Linked DNA regions of Homo sapiens: region 1 is linked to region 2. The links come from fine-mapping of genetic effects on gene expression. A gene starts in region 2. The other region holds a variant in brackets. All regions are shown on one strand. Distances are from middle to middle. Region 1 overlaps GCGR (glucagon receptor). Region 2 holds the start of ALYREF (Aly/REF export factor).

Evidence for each region.
Region 1: its variant is fine-mapped to the expression of ALYREF in lung (TOPMed, PIP 0.91).

The regions. Positions count from the first base shown.
Region 1 is chr17:81,810,656-81,820,460 of GRCh38, reverse strand. It overlaps GCGR (glucagon receptor), which reads right to left. Exons shown (of 14, transcript NM_000160.5): 4 at 9,529-9,636; 5 at 9,330-9,451; 6 at 9,133-9,239; 7 at 8,901-9,057; 8 at 8,651-8,810; 9 at 8,515-8,575; 10 at 8,209-8,278; 11 at 7,796-7,884; 12 at 7,516-7,654; 13 at 7,404-7,445; 14 at 6,453-6,987. The coding sequence ends at 6,772. Among named protein-coding and RNA genes, the nearest start is that of GCGR, 11 kb to the right of the region's middle. The variant A/G (reference allele first, on the strand shown) is at 3,248.
Region 2 is chr17:81,886,033-81,895,837 of GRCh38, reverse strand. ALYREF (Aly/REF export factor) reads left to right here and starts at 4,252. Exons shown (of 6, transcript NM_005782.4): 1 at 4,252-4,515; 2 at 5,018-5,149; 3 at 6,509-6,656; 4 at 7,255-7,318; 5 at 7,420-7,597; 6 at 7,693-8,003. The coding sequence starts at 4,258. The coding sequence ends at 7,707. It overlaps ANAPC11 (anaphase promoting complex subunit 11), which reads right to left and starts at 4,115. Exons shown (of 4, transcript NM_001002248.3): 1 at 3,997-4,115; 2 at 2,224-2,286; 3 at 1,252-1,371. The coding sequence starts at 1,360. RefSeq lists silencers at 2,600-2,815, 3,696-4,235, 6,266-6,430 and an enhancer at 6,234-7,433.

The DNA of each region.
Region 1 (9,805 bases), 75 kb after region 2:
CGCCACTGCACTCCGTCCTGGGCAACAGAGCAAGACTCCGTCTCAAAAAAAAAAAAAAAAAAAAGAAAAAGAAAAAAATAAATAAAAGAATGGCTACTCTACAGGCAAAGCAGTAGTTTATCCCTCTGTACAGAGTGTGGGCTGTGGTGATCCAAAGGCCTCTCCCCTGCATGGGTGCTGGGACCCCTGTGTAGCACACAGGAGGTGCCGAGGGAGCTCCTTGTGTTAAGAGATGGACCTGATTTGGGCTCACCTGGGTCATCTTACACTGGGCCCTGGAATCCGGGCCTTGCCTACCTACAGCCGGGGGGTGGAGCTCCCCCAGGTATGGCCCCAGCACCTGGGCCTGCCACCAGAAACCTTCAATTTGGAGATCTTTCTGCCAAGAACCCTTCAGAGGAGGGGGCCGGCCTGGCCAGGCACATGCTGGGCAGGAGGGTAGGAGTCTGTGGGGAGCGCTGAGCCCACGGTGTTGCTGGAGGCCCCACCCCTTCACCCGATGCACCGCGTGGGGGATGGGGATTGGGGTGAGGAGGGGGAGGGGATTGGGGTGAGGAGGGGGAGGGGACGCGGGAGAGGGGGCCTAACCTACCTGAGGGCTGGGGAGGTGCACCCACCGGGACCGGACCTCTGACCCTGAAGCAAACTTGCCCTCCCATCCCCTCTTCGGTGGACCACCCAGTGAGGTCAGCTCTGCAGGGGCCACAGGGTGGTCTTACCCCAGCCGTTCGCCTAATGGTGTGAGAACTCACTGTAGTCACAAAGCGGGGTCTCTACTTTCAGCTTGAGGAGCACATAAAGGGCTGCTAGAGTGGGCACCTCTCCCCTGGGCTGCGGGAGCTGACCGTGGGGCCCGATCCCAGAGGGTTGCGGTCCTCCCACCCCAGCCTGTCCTTCAGCCCTGCTGCCACTGCCTTGTCCATGCAGGGCACCAGGGCCCTCCGACCCTCACCCAATCCTGGAGGCTGCTGGACTAAGCAGCTGGAGACACTCCCCTTTCTGCAGTGAGGGCGACTTGGGGAAATGAGGCAACTGCAACTGTTGCGTGTTGTACCGTTGGTGTGCATACACACATCACAATCTGCTGTGTACTGTTGGTGTGCACACACATCACTATCTGCTGTGTAGTGTTGGTGTGCACGCGCATGTCACTATCTGCTGTGTACTGTTGGTGTGCACACACATGTCACTACCTGCTGTGTAGTGTTGGCGTGCACGCGCATGTCACTATCTGCTGTGTAGTGTTGGTGTGCACACACATCACTATCTGCTGTGTAGTGTTGGCGTGCACACATATGTCACTATCTGCTGTGTACTGTTGGCGTGCACACACAAGTCACTATCTGCCGTGTAGTGTTGGCGTGCACACACAAGTCACTATCTGCCGTGTAGTGTTGGCGTGCACACACAAGTCACTATCTGCCGTGTAGTGTTGGCGTGCACACACAAGTCACTATCTGCCGTGTAGTGTTGGCGTGCACACACAAGTCACTATCTGCCGTGTAGTGTTGGCGTGCACACACAAGTCACTATCTGCCGTGTAGTGTTGGCGTGCACACACAAGTCACTATCTGCCGTGTAGTGTTGGCGTGCACACACAAGTCACTATCTGCCGTGTAGTGTTGGCGTGCACACACAAGTCACTATCTGCCGTGTAGTGTTGGCGTGCACACACAAGTCACTATCTGCCGTGTAGTGTTGGCGTGCACACACAAGTCACTATGCTGTGTAGTGGCGTGCACACACAAGTCACTATCTGCTGTGTAGTGTTGGCGTGCACGCACATGTCACTATCTGCTGTGTAGTGTTGGCGTGCACGCACAAGTCACTATCTGCTGTGTAGTGTTGGCGTGCACGCATATGTCACTATCTGCTGGGTACTGTTGGTGTGCACGCACGTGTCACTATCTGCTGTGTAGTGTTGGCGCGCACGCACAAGTCACTATCTGCTGTGTAGTGTTGGCGTGCACACATATGTCACTATCTGCTGTGTACTGTTGGTGTGCACGCACACATGTCACTCTGGCAACTCCATGGGGCAGGTTTTAGTATCCCAATTTACAAGTGAGGAAACAGTGACCTCTTTCAGGGGGGTTAAGCTCTTATGAAAATTGTAATTAATACTTATTGAGCATGAACAATTTCCTAATAGCCGATATACCCAGCTCCCATTTCCCAAATGACTAAATTAATAGGTTCCTGGTGGGTTGCTGGCAGCATGGGAAGGCGGCGCCCATGTGTCCCGAGCCTCCATCCGTAACATGCCCCTCTTTTTCCACCATTCGTGTAAGGACCCCTGGCGTTTGACAGTCGTGTACCCCACATTCTGCCTTTGGCCAGCTGCATCTCTGTGGTGTCAACAGACCCCTGTTTCCCCTGTACTTCTGTAAAATGAGGTGTGGTGCAGAGGCCTCATCGGATTCATAGGAGACTTCGGGTGTCAAAGCATCTGGCTGCTGTGTGGGAATGGGTTGCAGGGTCCGGGGTAGCAGCAGGGGTCCTGTTAGGAGGCTTCTGCAGTGGACAGTGGGAGGAAGAAGCTGGGGACAGGGTGAGCAGCTCGGTGTGGACATCCAGCTGTACATGCCGAGCTGATAGCTGGGTCTAAAGCGTGGATTCAGCAGAGCCCCAGGTCGGGGGAGATAGATGAAGAGTTAGCTGAGCACTGCTGGTTTTTAAAGATTGATCAAGAAGAAATGAGGGTGGTGCCTGGTTCCTGGACACAACAGGGAGAGAAAGAAGAAAAAGGAACAGTGGAGGGCAGGGTCAGAGAAAGAGCAGGCAGGGGAGGACCCGGGGCTGAGTGAGTGCAGGGGGAGGACCCGGGGCTGAGTGAGTGCAGGGGAGGACCCGGGGCTGAGTGAGTGCAGGGGGAGGACCCCGGGCTGAGTGAGTGCAGGGTGTCTGGGGATAGGCTGAGCCAGCTCACGTAGTGGACCTGCAGCCCTAGCCATCTCCCACCCACCTTGCCTAGAGATGACCACTTTGTTTTTTTGTTTTGTTTTGTTTTGTTTGAGGCGGAGTCTCACTCTGTTGCCCAAGCTGGAGTGCAGTGGCGCGATCTCGGCTCACTGCAAGCTGCGCCTCCTGGGTTCACGCCATTCTCCTGCCTCAGCCTCCCGAGTAGCTGGGACTACAGGCGCCCACCACCACGCCTGGCTAATTTTTAGTAGAGATGGGGTTTCTCCTTGTTAGCCAGGATGGTCTCAAACTCCTGGCCTTGTGATCCGCCCGCCTCAGCCTCCCA[A/G]AGTGCTGGGATCACAGGCGTGAGCCACCGCGCCCGGCCCCGAGGTGACCACTTTGAACTCTTCACCTCATTCTTTGCATTTTTAAATTTTGCTCTGTATTTTTATTTCTAACGTGAATTATTCTTGATTTTTCCCATTTTGTTCTCTCCCCTACCCCCAGTACATACGTGATATTCCCGTCCACCACCCTCCCTAGATCTTTTTTCTCCCATGATTCTGGTTGCATCAGTGTTGGTGTTTACATTATGATGTCTGTGTTTGTATTCAGAACTGAGTCATGGTAAATTCTGCTTGTTTTGTTCTTTTCTGCCCAAATTTTTCTTTTCTTTGGAATTATTAATTGCCTTCTTTTTTCATTTGCTTGGTTTTTTCTTTCTTTTTTTTTTTTTTTGAGACGGAGTCTTGCTCTGTCACCCAGGGTGGAGTGCAATGGCACCATCTTGGCTCACAGCAGCCTCCGCCTCCCAGGTTCAAGCGATTCTCCTGCCTCAGGCTCCCAAGTAGCTGGGACTACAGGCGCCCGCCACCACGCCCGGCTAATTTTTGTATTTTTAGTAGAGACGAGGTTTCACCATGTTGGCCAGGCTGGTCTCGAACTCCTGACCTCAGGTGATTCGCCCGCCTTGGCCCCCCAAAGTGCTGGGATTACAGGCATGAGCCACTGCACCCAGCCTCATTTGTTTAGTTTTCTATGTACTAGTCACTAATCAAGTCCTGAACTCTCTCCTCTAAATATTAGTGCACTCAATCCCTTTCATCCCCTTGAGGGTGTCTCTGCTGAGCCTTCTGTCTGGCTCAAGGTCCCCTATTCCTGTGACGCACTTCTGACTCTCCTAGATTTGGTCCTTCATGTAGTTCATGTCTTCCTTTTTCCTGGTCTCCACTCTCATTTTAGTAGTATTTTTGTGTCCACAGACACCAGATTCCAGGGTATCAAAGTCATCTTCCTCCCAGCCATGCACACACAGCACCCAACTCTTGCAGATACCCCTTTGGGATGCCGGGCATCACATACCTGCCTGTAATCCCAGCTACTAGGGAGGCTAAGGCAGGAGAATCGCTTGAACCTGGGAGGCGGAGGTTGCGGTGAGCTGAGATCGCGCCATTGAGCTCCAGCCTGGGCAACGAGAGTGAAACTCCGTCTCAAAAAAAAAAAAAAAAAAATTAGCCAGGTGTCGTGGCACACGCCTATAATCCCAGCTACTCAGGAGGCTGAGGCAGAGAATCACATGAACCTGGGAGGTGGAGTTTGCAGTGAGCCAAGATCATGCCACTGCACTCCAACTTGGGCAACAGAGTGAGACTCTATCTCCAAAAAAGAAAAAAAACAGTCCCTCCACCTACCTGCCTGCAGGACTGCCTGGTTAGGGCCAGTGTTTATTGCCTGGGTGAGTCCACCCCCTGCCAGTCCCCAACTCCACCCAACTCCACCAGCCTGCTCCAGTTCCCTTAGGGATGAGGGCGGGACAGAGGTGAAAGAGGACAAGGGCAGAGGGACTCGGGAATGGGGAGGGCTGTCAGGAGGTCCCAGGTGAGGGGCAGTTTCCCCAGGGCAGTCACCAGCCCTGAGCTCAGCTGGCATGAAGGAGAATGTCCACCTCCGTGTGCTGACTCGGAGCAGCCTCGTGCCCACACAGGCACCCGGGCATCCAGGGCTCAGAGGAGAGCCAGGACCTGAGGCCGGAGGGGCGTAGAGCTGGCCTGAAGCCTTAAGGTCTGAGATCACAGGCCTCCAGCAGGTGCAGCTCAGGGGACCGTCTCCTGGCCTTGCCGTCCCAATCACAGCAACCCCAGGGCCCCAGAAGGGTCCAGCCTTGCCTAATCAGCTCACTTCCCTCCCTGCTGCATGCAGGCCCTGTGGTGGGTGGCAGGGTGAGGGCCCCCCCAGGAGGGCCCCAGTGCCTGGCGGGTGAGTAATTCTATTTACCTTTCCTCAGAGGCCTCCTGTCCCCTCATTTGCCCCAATTAGTCCGGCTCTGCCTGAGCGGCTCCAGCCCACGTGGCCCAGGCAGGGGCTGTGAGCACCCCTTCCCCCAGGGCCCAGCAGCACTTCCCAGCAGCTCCTCAGAGCAGGGGCACCTGACTGGCTCCTTCCCCAGCCCATGCACACACCTCAGTAGGTCTCACAGTGCCTGCTGCAGGGACCCCCCGGGGGGCTGACCACAGGCCCCTCACAGCTTCTACCCTGAATTTGTCTCCACCCCCGCTGTGTGGTCCCTGGGCCCTTAGACTCAGGTTGGGCCCCACACAATGGGAGACCCCACCCTGAAGCACCTCCTGTGTCCAGCACGCAGGAGGCAGCTCTTTCCTGGTGCTCCCTGGCTGGCAAGCAGGGCGCCCACCCACCACGAGGTGGCAAGAGGACTGGCGTAGGCTGGACCTCTCTGTGTGGCACGAGGACTGGCGTAGGCCGGACCTCTCTGTGTGGCACGAGGACTGGCGTAGGCCGGACCTCTCTGTGTGGCACGAGGACTGGCGTAGGCCGGACCTCTCTGTGTGGCACGAGGACTGGCGTAGGCCGGACCTCTCTGTGTGGCACGAGGACTGGCGTAGGCCGGACCTCTCTGTGTGGCACGAGGACTGGCGTAGGCCGGACCTCTCTGTGTGGCACGAGGACTGGCGTGTGTGTGGCGCACCCCGGGTCCTGTGCAGAAGTTGGGCAACCTGCCCTCCTCCGTCGCCTGGACCCGCGGCAATGTTCAGGCCCATTTCTTCCCGCTTCAATCTGCTACGTGGCCTGTAAATTGCCCGAGGGGGCTGGAGCTGAGATGAAACGGAGGCCAGGAGGCTCAGAGGAAGGGCGGGCCGATGAGCCAGGTGCCAGTGTCCTCACGGCCTCCAGGGAGAAGACGCCCTCGGGTGAATCCAGTGCTGATGGGGTCGGTCAGGGGACTGTGATGCCTCATGCCGCCTTAGCCACTGTGCCCCTCACGTCTCTGCTGGTGAATGGTGACCCTCTGGTGGCCAAAGCGTCCAGGGGGACTGCCCGCCAGAACCAGGATGGGAAGGTGGCCAGGACCTGCTCAGATGGGCACAGGCTGGCTGCCTTCGGGATCCTCCGGGGTTCCAGTGCCAACTCTGAGTGAACTGGGACAGCAGGGGGACCCTTCAACAGCCCGCACTGGCGCTGACCACCCACCGCTGTTCCATCCCCCACTGCTTCGGCCCCAGCATTTCCAGCCCTGCTTTCCAGGACATGCACGGTGACCACTTGAGCTCTTTATTGTTGGAGGACATTTCCATGCACATGGGACGTGCCGACATACGTGGGGACACTGGCACGCAGTTCACGGCACAGCCCCCACTCCCGCCCTGGACTCCTCTGCTCACCTCTGCACCAGGGACAAGGCAGGTGCAGGGAGAGGAGGCCCAATCTCGCAGACAGCCACACTGGGGGTGGGGGGTAGGTGGGGGCTGCTGTTGGCTCCCCCGCCCCCAGCCTCAGCTGGGCGTCCAGTTCTGGGTTGTCCAGCGACGCCCTCTGGGTGCCAGAGTCCAGCCCTAGCTGGGGTCCCAGCAGGGTTCAGAAGGGGCTCTCAGCCAATCTAGGGAGGCCACCAGCCAAGGGGGTCTCCGCAGATGAATCCTGGCTGCCACCACCCCTCCCAAACTGCAGCTCCTTGCTGGGAGGGCCGTGGCCGGGCGAAGATGAGGCCCTGTGGTTGCTGGTGTTCCGCTCCTCCCATAGCACTTTGCCCAGGCGCCAGCGGTGCCAACGCCGCCGCAGCTCCGACTGCACCTGGGGAGGGGGACGGGGCAGGCCAGTCCTAGGGCCTGCCTGTCCTCTCCACCCCACCGGGACCTGCTGTGGGCCTCATCGGAGATGCCCAGTCTCCGCTCTGAGGGGTGCAGAGCGACACAAGCTCCCTGCTGGGCACAGCTATGCCACCCAGCATCGCCACGGAAAGCAGTCTGCAGACACCTGGGGACCCCCACGGTGGACACCGTAGCGATGGGGCTGAGGCCAACCTGTCCTGGGGGCCTGACACCCAGCGCCATGGCAACTGCACCCAATAAGAGCAGGGGGAGGGAAAGGCTTGGGCCCCACGTGTTCCAACCCCCGGGCAGGGGTGGGGCTGGCATCCCTGTGCCTCTCTCTGCCCCTGACCCCGACGGCCAGTGCTGATGGTCTCAGATGCCCCCACTCCCACCTACCTCCTTGTTGAGGAAGCAGTAGAGGACAGCCACCAGCAGGCCCTGGAGAGACAGGGTGGTCAGGGGTGGCACACTGCGCCCCGGGCGGGGGAGCCGGCGGGCGGGCGGGCACCTGGAAGGAGCTGAGGAAGAGGTCGAAGAAGAGCTTGGCGGAGCGCAGGGTGCCCTGGGCGTGCTCGTCCGTCACGAAGGCGAAGACCACTTCGTGGACGCCCAGCAGAGGGATGAGGGTCAGCGTGGACTTGGCCAGCCTGCAGAGGCAGCGCCTGAGTCACCCACCGCCCCCACCCTCGGCCCGCACCATCCACGTGGAGCTTGGAGTCCCCACCCCCAGCTGCCCTCTGGCCCTGAGGGTCTCCAGGTCTCGAGACGCCAGCTGCCGCGGCACCCACCGGAACTTGTAGTCTGTGTGGTGCATCTGCCGTGCCCGCAGCTTGGCCACGAGCAGCTGAACGATGCGGACGAAGATGAAGAAGTTGATCTGTGTGAGAAGGGTGCGAGTCAGGGGCATCCCGAGCCCCAGGGAACAGCTCTGTGCCCTTGGAAGGCCCCACCTGACCCTCCTGCAGGTGGGCCTGGCAGCAAGATAGGCCCTGGGCCACATAGCCCTGGGGCTGGTGGGCACACAGCCAGGGAGGAACAGCCTGGCTCAGTGTCCAGGGTGCTGGCCAGTGTCCTGGTGTCCTGTCTGGGTGCCGGCTCCCTCCCAGCGCTCTCAGACAGGATGCTGCTGTCTCCTGGGGCAGCCTCAGGACGCCAAGGGAGGAGGGGCCTGGGGTGCGCTCCTGGCTCTTCATTTCCTCACCAGGATGGCCAGGAAGACGGGGAACCGCAGGATCCACCAGAAGCCCATGTTGTCATTGCTGGTCCAGCACCTGCGAGGCCAGGCCACTCACATACTGGGGCACAGCCCCCAGCCCCTCCGCCCCTCAGCACCCCCGTCCCGATTTTGCCAGGATCTAATTCGGGTCTCAGAAAAGGAAGGGAGAAGGTCACAAATGACCCCCTCCCCAGGCACCAGGCTCATCCCCGGCCCCTCCCTGCCTCAGGCCAGAGCGCCGCACCCCAGCCCCCCGGTCCCTCCCCAGGCTGTCCAGCCGCTCATACTCACTGGACGTTCTCGAACAGACACTTGACCACTGCCCAGGGGACGACGAACAGCATGGGGGCACCTGTGGGGGGCAGCAGCTGTGGTCCCAAAGGCTTGGTCAGCCTGCCTTAACCCCCTCTCATGCCAGCCCACTCACCCCAGCCGATGCCCAGGTAGAGGCTGAAGAAGCTCCTCTCGGGGAGGGTGGCCAGGCCCAGCAGGTTGTGCAGGTACAGGCCCTCCACCAGCAGCCAGCAGTAGTTGGCCACGATGCCATATTGCATGAACACCGCGGCCACACGGCAGCCAGCCACCGCCTGGTACAGGTGCAGTGTGAGCGCGGCTACGTGGCCACCTGCCTGGCTGCCCACCCACCCACCTGCCTGGGGCCGCCGAGGGGGGCTCACTCCATCACTGAGCCAGGTGCTGACACTGAGGTCGTCGCCAATTTTCTGGCTGTAGCGGGTCCTGAGCAGCCCATCAATGACCAGCACGGAGCTGGCTTTCAGCACGAAGGACGCAAACAGATTCGCGTGGATGGCATTGCGGGTGCAGTGCAGCTTGCTGTGGGCACAGCCAGTCAGCGCCCGTCCTCCTCCCTGTCCTCTGCGGCCGCCCCGGGCGCTGGCGGAATCCTACCTGAGGCCCCCCAGGATGGCCAAGGCGAGGAGCAGGGCCCCCAGGGACAGGCTGTAGCCCACTGTGTACATCACCTGGAAGCTGCTGTACATCTTGGCCACCTCCTTCTGCGAGTTACAGTGGCCTGTGAGGGCCAGGCAGGGGCCCCCATGCCCGTTCCCATCCAGCCCCACCGCGCCTGCCTGCCGCCCACTGACCTGGACCTCAATCTCCTCGCCATCCATCTGGCACTGGGAGGCATCACGCCAAGGCTGCCCCCGGGGTCCACGCACCCACTGACCGTCGGGCCCGCATCTCTTGAACACGAAGCGGTGTTGCACTGGGGGTGTGGGGGGAGGCTGGGGTCAGCCCCACCCTGGGCCCGCCCCCCCCACAGTTCCTCCCCTCTATGGGTACCTTTGTGGTGCCAAGGCAGGTACCAGGGGCAGGAGATGTTGGCCGTGGTATTGGCGGGGGTGTCCGGCCAGCAGGAATACTTGTCGAAGGTTCTGTTGCACACCAGCTCTGCAGGGTAGGGTAGGGCAGGGCAGAGCAGGGCAGGGCAGGGTGGGAGAAGGGGCTCCCTCAGCAGGCCTCTCTCCTCTCTCTGGAAGCCTGAGCTCGGCCGTCACCTCGCCCAGGACATGGCCTGGGCTGCTCCCTCCCCCACTTGACCTCCACCTCCCCCATCTGA
Region 2 (9,805 bases):
ACGCCACACACCCAGCTAATTTTTGTATTTTTAGTAGAGATGGCGTTTCACTATGTTGGCCAGGATGGTCTCAATCTCCTGACCTTGAGATCCATCCACTTCAGCCTCCCACAGTGCTGGGATGACAAGTGTGGGCCACCACACCCTGCCTTGATCTCTTGACCCTGTGATCTGCCTACCTTGGCCTCCCACAGTGCTAGGATGACAGGTGTGAGCCACCGTGCCGGCCTCCATCTCTTGACCTTGTGATCCGCCCGCCTCGGCCTCCCACAGTGCTGGAATAACAGGCGTGGGCCGCCATGCCGGCCTCCATCTCTTGACCTTGTGATCTGCCCGCCCAGACTCTAATCTCTTTTTAATCCCACGTATTTCACAGCTGAGTTTCATCCTATGGAGTCTGTGACAGGATCTTTATATAAACATGGGTACCAACCACCTGGCTTTTTTTCTATCAACTTTTCTTCATGAGATGAAAATGAAAATGTTGGGGGGGGCACGGTGGTTCGCGCCTGTAATCCCATCCCTTTGGGAGGCTGAGGCGGGTGGATCACCTGAGGTTGACAGTTCGAGACCAGCCTAACATGGAGAAAGCCTGTCTCTACTAAAAAATACAAAATTAGCCGGGTGTAGTGGCACATGCCTGTGATCCCAGGTACTTGGAAGGCTGAGGCAGGAGAATCGCTTGAGCCCAGGAGGCGGAGGTTGCAGTGAGCCGAGATCGCGCCATTGCACTCCAGCCTGGGCAACAAGAGTGAAACTCCATCTCAAAAAAAAAAAAAAAAAAAAAGAAAAGAAAGAAAGAAAAGAAAATAAAAATGTGGGCCAGGCAAAGTGGCTCACACCTGTAATCCCAGCACTTTGGAAGGCTGAAGCGGGCAGGTCACCTGAGGTCAGGAGTTCAAGGCCAGCCTAGCCAACAAGGCAAAACCCCGTCTCTACTAAAAATAAAAAAATTAGCCCAGCATGGTGGCACATGCCTGTAATCCCAGCTGCTTGGAAGGCTGAGGCAGGAGAACCGTTTGAACCCGGGAGGCAGAGGTTGCGGCAAGCCGAGATCGCGCCATTGCACTCCAGCCTGGGAAACAAGATCGAAACTCGGTCTCAAAAAAAAAAAAAAAAAAAGAAAATGAAACTGGGTATTTCGTGCAGGTATTTAACAGGAGCTACTGAGGCTAGTCCAGCAGGCAGCAGACAGCACAGAGGGGACACTCACAGTCGGGGCCGCTCAGACAGCATGGAGGGGACACTCACAGTCAGGGCAGCATCCGTTAAATGCCATCCTGCAGATGCCACAGTTCTCATCGTTGGCCACCCAGAGCCAAGTGGCCACGCCGTTCCAGCACTTAATCTTCACCTTCATGGCAGCAGAGCCTGCGGCGGAGGGAACAGGACGACTGGCTAAATTGAGTCTGCAGAGCTAGAACGTTTAGGCACCAACACAGGTATAAGCCTGCCACAGTGCAGTCCCAGCTACTCAGGGGGCCAAGGCAGGAAGATCATACCGGCCCAGGAGTCCGAACCCAGCCTGGGAAACATCGTGAGCCCTGTTTCTATTTTATTTTACTTTTATTTTTATTAATTTTTTTTTTTTGAGACAGAGTCTCACTCTGTCACCCAGGCTGTAGTGCAGTGGCATGATCTCAGCTCATTTCTTGTGCTTCGGCCTCCTGAGTAGCTGAGGCTATAGGCACGTGACTCCACGCCCGACTAATTTTTGTATTTTTAGTAGTCGAGGTTTCACCATGTAGGCCAGGCTGGTCTTGAACTCCTGGCCTCAAGCGATCTGCCACTGCGGCCTCCCAAAGTGCTGGGATTACAGGCGTGAACCCCTATGCCCTGCTATGAGCCCCGTTTCTATTAAAACAAATAACAAGTAAAGGGCTCTGGGCCCAGAGGGTCAGGGCTGCAGGGGAGCTACGGGAGAACAGCAAGCCCCAGCAGCAATCCGCTTTGTGGCTCACACCTGTGATCCCAGCACTCTGGGAGGCCAACTCGGGAGGATCGCCTGAGCTCAGGAGTTTGAGACCAGCCTGTGTAACACAGTGAGACTGAGTCTCTACCAAAAAAAAAAAAAAAAAAAAAGGAAAAAAAAGAACTATCTGTGAGGTTTCTTTAGCCATCTAGAGAAAGGGCACACTCTTCTCTCCAAGGGAAGGGACTCAGCTCCTTACGGACAAGGAGATCACATTTGGGAGCACAGGACAGTCAGGAGTTTGGTTTTACCTCACGTTGAGGATATCTTCAAAGATCTCAAATGGGCCTGGCCAACATGACGAAACTCCGTCTCTACAAAAAATACAAAAAAATTAGCCGCAGGTGGTGGCTCATGCTTGTAATCCCAGCACTTTGGGAGGCCGAGGAGGGTGGATCACTTGAGGTCAGGAGTTCGAGACCAACCTGGCCAACATGGTGAAACCCCATCTCTACCAAAAAAACAAAAATTAGAGGCCAGGCGTAGTGGCTCACGCCTGTAATCCCAGCACTTTGGGAGGCTGAGGCAGGCAGATCACAAGGTCAGGAGTTCAAGACCAGCCTGGCCAACATACTGAAACCCTGTCTCTACTAAAAATACAAAAAATTAGCCGGGTGTGGTGGTGGGCAACTGTAATCCCAGCTACTCGGGAGGGTGAGGCAAGAGAATCACTTGAACCTGGGAGGCGGAGGTTGCAGCGAGCTGAGATCACGCCAGCTCCCAGCTCTATTCGGGAAGCTGAGCCACAGGAATCACTTGGACCTGGGAGGCAGAGATTGCAGTGAGCCGAGATCGCACCACTGCACTCCAGCCTGGGCAACATAGTGGGACTGTCTCAAAAAAAAAAAAAAAAGCCAGCTGTGGTGGCGTGCACCAGCTGCCTGAGAGGCTGACGTGGGAGGATAGCTCGAGCCCAGGAGTTTGAGGCTGCAGTGAGCCAAGATCACACCACTGCACTCCACTCTGGGTGACGGAGGGAGACCCTGACTCAAAAAACAAAAACAAAAGCAAGTATCTCAAAACAACTTAAAATCCATGAAATGGGCTGGGTGTGGTGGCTCATGCCTGTAATCCCAGCACTTTGGGAGGCCAAGGCGGGCGGATCATCTGAGGTCAGGAGTTCAAGACCACCCTGGCCAACATGGCGAAACCCTGTCTCTATTAAAAATACAAACATTAGCCAGGTATGGTGGCACGTGCCTGTAGTCCCAGCTACTCGGGAGGCTGCCGCTGGAGACTCGCTTGAACCCAGGAGGCAGAGGTTGCAGTGAGCCGAGATCGCCCCACTGCACTCCAGCCTGGGCGACAGAATGAGACTGCCTCAAAAAAAAAAAAAAAAAATCAATGAAATGGCACACTGGTTTTCATTAATAAGTTGCAAAAATAATTTTTTTTTGGAGACAGGGTCTGGCTCTGTCGCCCAGGCTGGAGTGCAGTGGTGCCACCACGGCTCACTGCAGCCTCGACCTCCTGGGCTCAAGCAATCCTCCCACCTCGGCCTCCCAAGTAGCTGGTAGTACAGAAGTGCACCACCATGCCCAGCTCATTTTTTTTTTTAGAGATGGGGGTCTCACGATGTTGCCCCGGCTGGTCTCAAACTCCTGGGCTGAAGCGAACCTCTTGCCTCGGCCTCCCAAAGTGCTGGGATTACAGGCGTGAGGCCCGCGCCCGGCCCGCAAGAAAACTTGTAAAGGATATGACTGGCAAAATGTGACAGTGCAGACTTGGGGGGGCTGCAGGTGGAGACCAAAAAACCAACCCGCAGCTCGTCTGCAGCGGCTGCCGCCCGCCGAAGCCGCGCCCGCCGGACCCCACCGCGAGCCGAGCGCACAGTCCTGGGCGGGAGCGGAAACAAGGACTCCCAGCAGCTCCCAGGCACCCGCCGCGCCCGTAGCGCCCCCAGCGCCCCCAGCCCTGGCCGATCGGGCGGAGCGTGCGGGGAGGGAGGGGCGCGTAGGCTCCGCCTCCAACGGCCGCCGCCCCACCCCCTGCGCCCTCGCACCTTCGCCAACCTAATCACGCACCGCCCTACCCGCCCTTCCGTTGGCAGCGCCGGCGTCCGCGCGGGAAGGTATAAAAACGACCACAGTCGCGGCCCGACTCCCTCAACAGCGCCCGCCGAGTCTCGCACGCCAGTGCGCACGCGCCTCCCCGCCTCACCCCGTCCCGCGCGCGCAGCCGTCCGCCAGCGGCCAATCAGCAGCCGCTCCGAGGCCGTGGCACCGGAAGGCCTCACGCGGCGCCGGAAGTGACGTGCCGGCGTGCTGACGCGCGGGCTCGAGCCGATGCCCGATTCCGCGCCCGCCATGGCCGACAAAATGGACATGTCTCTGGACGACATCATTAAACTGAACCGGAGCCAGCGAGGCGGCCGGGGCGGGGGCCGGGGCCGCGGCCGGGCCGGCTCCCAGGGCGGCCGCGGCGGTGGGGCGCAGGCCGCCGCGCGAGTGAATCGAGGCGGCGGGCCCATCCGGAACCGGCCGGCCATCGCCCGCGGCGCGGCCGGCGGAGGCGGCAGGAACCGACCGGCGCCCTACAGCAGGGTGAGTGCGGAGGCCGGCCGCGCCGGAGAGTGGGAGGGGGCCAGCCGGGGCTGGGGCCGGGGCCGCTCGCGGCGGAGACCCGGGCCGGCGGGTGGATAAGGCTGGTGGAGCGGCCGCCCGGAGGTCCGGAGGGTGCGTGTGGGCGCGGAGGGGGTGGTGGGCGGGAGCGAGGTCGTTCTTTCGGGGTCCGGTCCCGGAGGCTGAGACCCTTCCCAGCTCTTTGTTTGTTCCGGACGTTGGGGCCTCGTGGCAGGAGAGGAGGGGACGCTGGGCGCGGCACAGGCGGCGGGAAGTTAGTCTAAGGGAACTGAAGTTGTGCGGCCGCGGTGGGACCGTGCGGCCTCGGGCTGGGGCAGCTGCAGCGCCGGAGGGAGCGCTGGCGGCCCCGTTTCGGCCGGATCCTCTCAGGCCGGGAAGAGGAAGGGTCCGGAGTAGCCGTGAGGGTCAGGAAAGCCCTGGACTGAGACTCACAGATCTGCTCTTGTTGCGGTTTTTTTTTCAGCCAAAACAACTTCCCGACAAGTGGCAGCACGATCTTTTCGACAGTGGCTTCGGCGGTGGTGCCGGCGTGGAGACAGGTGGGAAACTGCTGGTGTCCAATCTGGATTTTGGAGTCTCAGACGCCGATATTCAGGTAAGAGACGAGGGCTTCTCGGTGAGCCGTTCGCCCTGCACAGGACGGATCGTGATTTTGGGGATGTGGCCCTGAGTCCCCTTCCCGCCTTAGCGAAGGGAGCCCTCCCAGCTCTGAAGGGCTGCAGGACAGACCCAGTGCTAGTAAAGCCGGGGTCAGTGCGCAGGCAGGTGCGAGCCTAGCTGAGCCTGAGGAACTGCTGCTGTTAGTCTGAAGATGGGTTCTGTGAGTGAAAATCCCCTGCCAGGGCTTCCAGTTTCTAACAGGGACAAAGACTGACCAAATGTGAGTGGTTTTTGGCTGTTAGACCCAGCCCAGTTGCTTTTTAAATTTTGTGCCTGTCTTAGTGGGTTAATGTGAGAAAAAGAATCTTCTTTATGTATCTTGTGAAGCACAGGGAGTCTGTTTTTCTGGCTCTGTTTGCCTTGAGTACTGTCTTATAAAGACCTTGTACGCTGTGGTTTTATCACTCCCCACCGCCGTGTCCCGTCAGTGACATGACTCTCAAATCCATCTTTGGTTGAAGCTTTTCTTTTTTAAAAAAAGAAAAATTGAATCCCAATGGCATTTCAACTTGTTTTCTGGTTAAGAAATGACTTTTTGGGAATCAGTTTTGGAGATGGCTGGGCAGGGTTCAGTTGCCCACAGCCCAGCCATTTGCCTTGGGAGGACAGAGTAGGGCCAGTGAGCACTCACAGTGTCTCAACACTTTTTTTAAGGTGGTTTCTAGCATCCACTGGAAACCGCTTTTGGTGAACTCCAGTTCCCGCTGTGTGCCTGCGGCCGGAGTATCCCCACACTCTGGGTTCCCTCTCCAACTCCCAGCCTGCCTGAGGTCAGGGCAGTTTCCATGACAGCGCTTGACTTCAGACTTTGCCGCAGGCTTGAGTAGGAGGAGAGGGAAAGGTGAGCCAGAATCTGCCTTTGGGGGAGGGGCTGGGGTCAGGGCTCCCGAATCTACAGGCCCTTCAAGCTGGTCTGATATCGGACTGCTTCCCTTGCTCTTGATTTTGGCCTTTACCGTTTCTTGGAACAGCCCTTGGGTGTGTTGTACATTTTCCTTTGTTGAAGAGGATAGTGGCTTAATTTTGTGCCCGTTGCTAGTGGGCTTTGCAGCTTCCTCTACCTGCATCGTGGTACACGTGTCAGGTCCCCACAATGGCAGGAGCCCTCAGACCCAGGTGCTCTTGGAAGTTGCTGTCCCTCCTGCCCCGCCCTTCCCTCATTTCCCGTTAACCACTGTCCTGCCTCCCAGAGAACCACCCCCAAAGCAACTCACGCTTCCAGGGCCTGTCCCTGGGCCACCAGAAGGAACGCAGTTTTGTTGCTTTTCTGACAACTGCTCTCTGCAACTCCCAGGAACTCTTTGCTGAATTTGGAACGCTGAAGAAGGCGGCTGTGCACTATGATCGCTCTGGTCGCAGCTTAGGAACAGCAGACGTGCACTTTGAGCGGAAGGCAGATGCCCTGAAGGCCATGAAGCAGTACAACGGCGTCCCTCTGGATGGTGAGTCTGGGGGTGGACCCACGCTGACTGTGGGGCTTGTGGAGTTTGGGGCTGGCACCTGTCCAGGTAGGAATATGGGGTACCCCTGTGGCTGAGGACACTTTGCATTTGCCCCTTTGTCTCTCTCTTCCATCTGCCACCTCTCATGCTGCCCCACACATCTGGACCAACCTCTTGTGAACCCCCATCCAGCAAGCTACATCCCTCCCCTCCTTCAGCTCCTTCCGGAAGATTCACTTCTGTGAAGCCTTCTCAGAACCGCCATAGTACACCTCTGAGTGCGGGGCTGTAGTCGTAAAGACAAAGGTACCGGTTCTTCTTCGTCAGGTCACCCACACCTCTCCACCCACGAGCACCCCGATACCTCAGCGAGCAGCCCACCTAGTCTGGACTGAGAAGGAGTGAGGAGGTGTTGGTGGGGTTGCTTCCTTGCCATTTTGTTCTCCCACCAGTATCTCCAGGCCATTTCCCTTGTCGGGGGCATTTGAGACGCACAGAGGCCCTTTCCAGTGTTTGCATGGAGACCAGGGTGTGGCGCCAGCTGGGTGGGTTTCAGAGCCTCTCAATAGAACGTGCCTTCTCGTATTCTTTGCCGCAGGCCGCCCCATGAACATTCAGCTTGTCACGTCACAGATTGACGCACAGCGGAGGCCTGCACAGAGGTGACTTCCGGGGCCTCTGGGGAAGGGGATTGGCCGAGGGTGAGGCTGCGTCGCTCTTAGGGTCCTTCCGGGTGTGTGAACGGTTTCGTCTTCCTTGCTAGCGTAAACAGAGGTGGCATGACTAGAAACCGTGGCGCTGGAGGTTTTGGTGGTGGTGGAGGCACCCGGAGAGGCACCCGCGGAGGCGCCCGTGGAAGAGGCAGAGGTGCCGGCAGGAATTCAAAGCAGCAGCTTTCGGCAGAGGAGCTGGATGCCCAGCTGGACGCCTATAATGCGAGAGTGAGTCCCGGGGGAGCCAGCTGGGGGCCTGGTCAAAGCCGCAGTGGGGAGCAGGCCGCCTGTGAATGCAAGCCTCTTTCTCCTCTGTGTTTCAGATGGACACCAGTTAAACAGACCAGCAAATCCGCGTGCGGAACAGGACCCAGGCGTCTCCTCTTGCTCCCTGGTTGGGGGGCGGTGGCTGGGGCTGTGCGGCCAATGATGGATTTGTTTCTTTTATGTTTTAAAATAGGATTTAAAAACTCATGTAAAGGTTTTTTTTTTTTCTTTTTTTTTTTTTTTAATTCTGAAACAGACCTGTTTTGTACCGAGTTATTTTTGGGATAAATTTTACTGGTTGCTGTTGTGGAGAAGGTGGCGTTTCCACCTTTTCCATAATAAAATAGAAATGTGTGTAGAACTGGAACTGTTTGATTCGTCCCACTGTTGGAGTCCAGGCCTGGGCCAGGATTTTGGTGTCTGTCCAGCTGGGAGGGGGTGGGAGAACCTGAGTTGGGGATGGAGGGAGCAGCCCCATCTGGTGTTGGACACCTGAAGTTGGCATGGGTTGTGGGGGTGGCGGGGGGTCCCCGCTCCTGGAGGGCCGAAGCTGCCTGTCTTCTTTCTTATCTTCTTTCCTGCCTCACACCTAACACCTTCCTCTCTAACTCACCAGGTGGGAGGACACCTTTGCCCGGGAGCCACCTGTTGACCCTTGTGCCTGTGCCTCCAGGTGAGGGGAGGTTGGGGTGGGATGGCTGCCCTGTGTGCCGTCCACAGGCTTCCCACAGCCAGAACATCTCTGGGCTGTTCCTTTCCTTCTTGTACTCTGGTTTTCAGAGAAACGTGGATTCAGCAGTTTTGACTTTGTAGTGTAATTCCTTTTTCTGTTTGTTTTTTTGTTGTTGTTTTTAACCTTGCCACGGAGCAAGGCATGAGGATCCTCTCTTAGTTGTATATTTGATGAAGTGGCTGGTGGAAGCTGTGATAATCCGTCCATTTAAGAGTGGGGCGGCTGGGCGCGGTGGCTCACGCCTGTAATCCCAGCACTTTGGGAGGCTGGGGCAGGCAGATCACCTGAGGTCAGGAGTTCAAGACCAGCCTGGCCAACATGGCGAAACCCCGTCTCTACTAAAAATACAAAATTAGCTGGGTGTGGTGGTGCATGCCTGTAATCCCAGCTACTTGGGAGGCTGAGGCTGGAGAATCGCCTGAACCAGGGAGGTGGAGGTTGCAGTGAGCCGAGATTGTGCCATTGCACTCCAGTCTGGACAACAAGAGTGAACTCCGTCTCAAAAAGGAGTAGGGCAACGCCTGATACCTGTAATCCCAGCACTTTGGGAGGTCAGGGCAGAAGGATCTCTTGAGCCCAGAAGTTCGAGACCAGCCTAGGCAACATGGCAAAACCCTATCTCTACTAAAAATACAAAAGTTAGCTGAGTGTGGTGGCGTGCTCCTGTGGTCTCAGCTATTCTAAAGGCTGAGGTGGGAGGATCGCTTGAGCCCTGGAGGTTGAGGCTGCTGTGAGCCATTATCATGCCACTGCACTCCAAGCTGGGCAGTGGAGAGAGAGCCTTGTGCCCCCTGATGCTGGGTTGGTGACAGCACTTTGAGAATGAGATGGGAAGGGGGACAAGGGAGCTCCAGAGTTCTGCCTGACCCCACTGTCCCACAGCTGGGATGTAAGGAAGCCCAGGGCAGTGGGCAGTGGTAGTGGAGAGACAGACAGGAATGCATGCCGTGTCTGCAGAAACCTTTCCCTGCACCAGCGGCTCCTGCGGGCACACATCCCAGGCTAAGCTTGCTTCCACGCTGGGATGGGCCTGGCTGAGTCATGGGCAAGGGAGTGTGACTAAGGGTGGTTCTTTCGCTGTCGGTCACAGATGTCACTACAGATCAGCAGCTGCCATCTAAGCAGCTTGCCCAATGCCAGCCAGGGCCACAGTCTAGGAACCCAGATGAACAGGATGACTAATCTTGGCCCTTCCAGAAGCCCAGTCTAGCAGGAGAAAGGATTACTAAGTCCCCAGCTGTAGTCGCTGTGAATGTGACAGAAAATGTCACCAGTGCAGTGAGTTAGAGTCAGGTTATCCCCAAGCAGGTGCCCTTGGCCCGGGCCTCGGTGTTGGAGCAAGGCCTGAGCAGGCCCATGCCAGGCAGGGGGTCTGCTCTCTGGGGCCGTGCTAGGACTGGCTCCCTGCTGCTTAGGAAGTGGAGAGGGCACCTGAT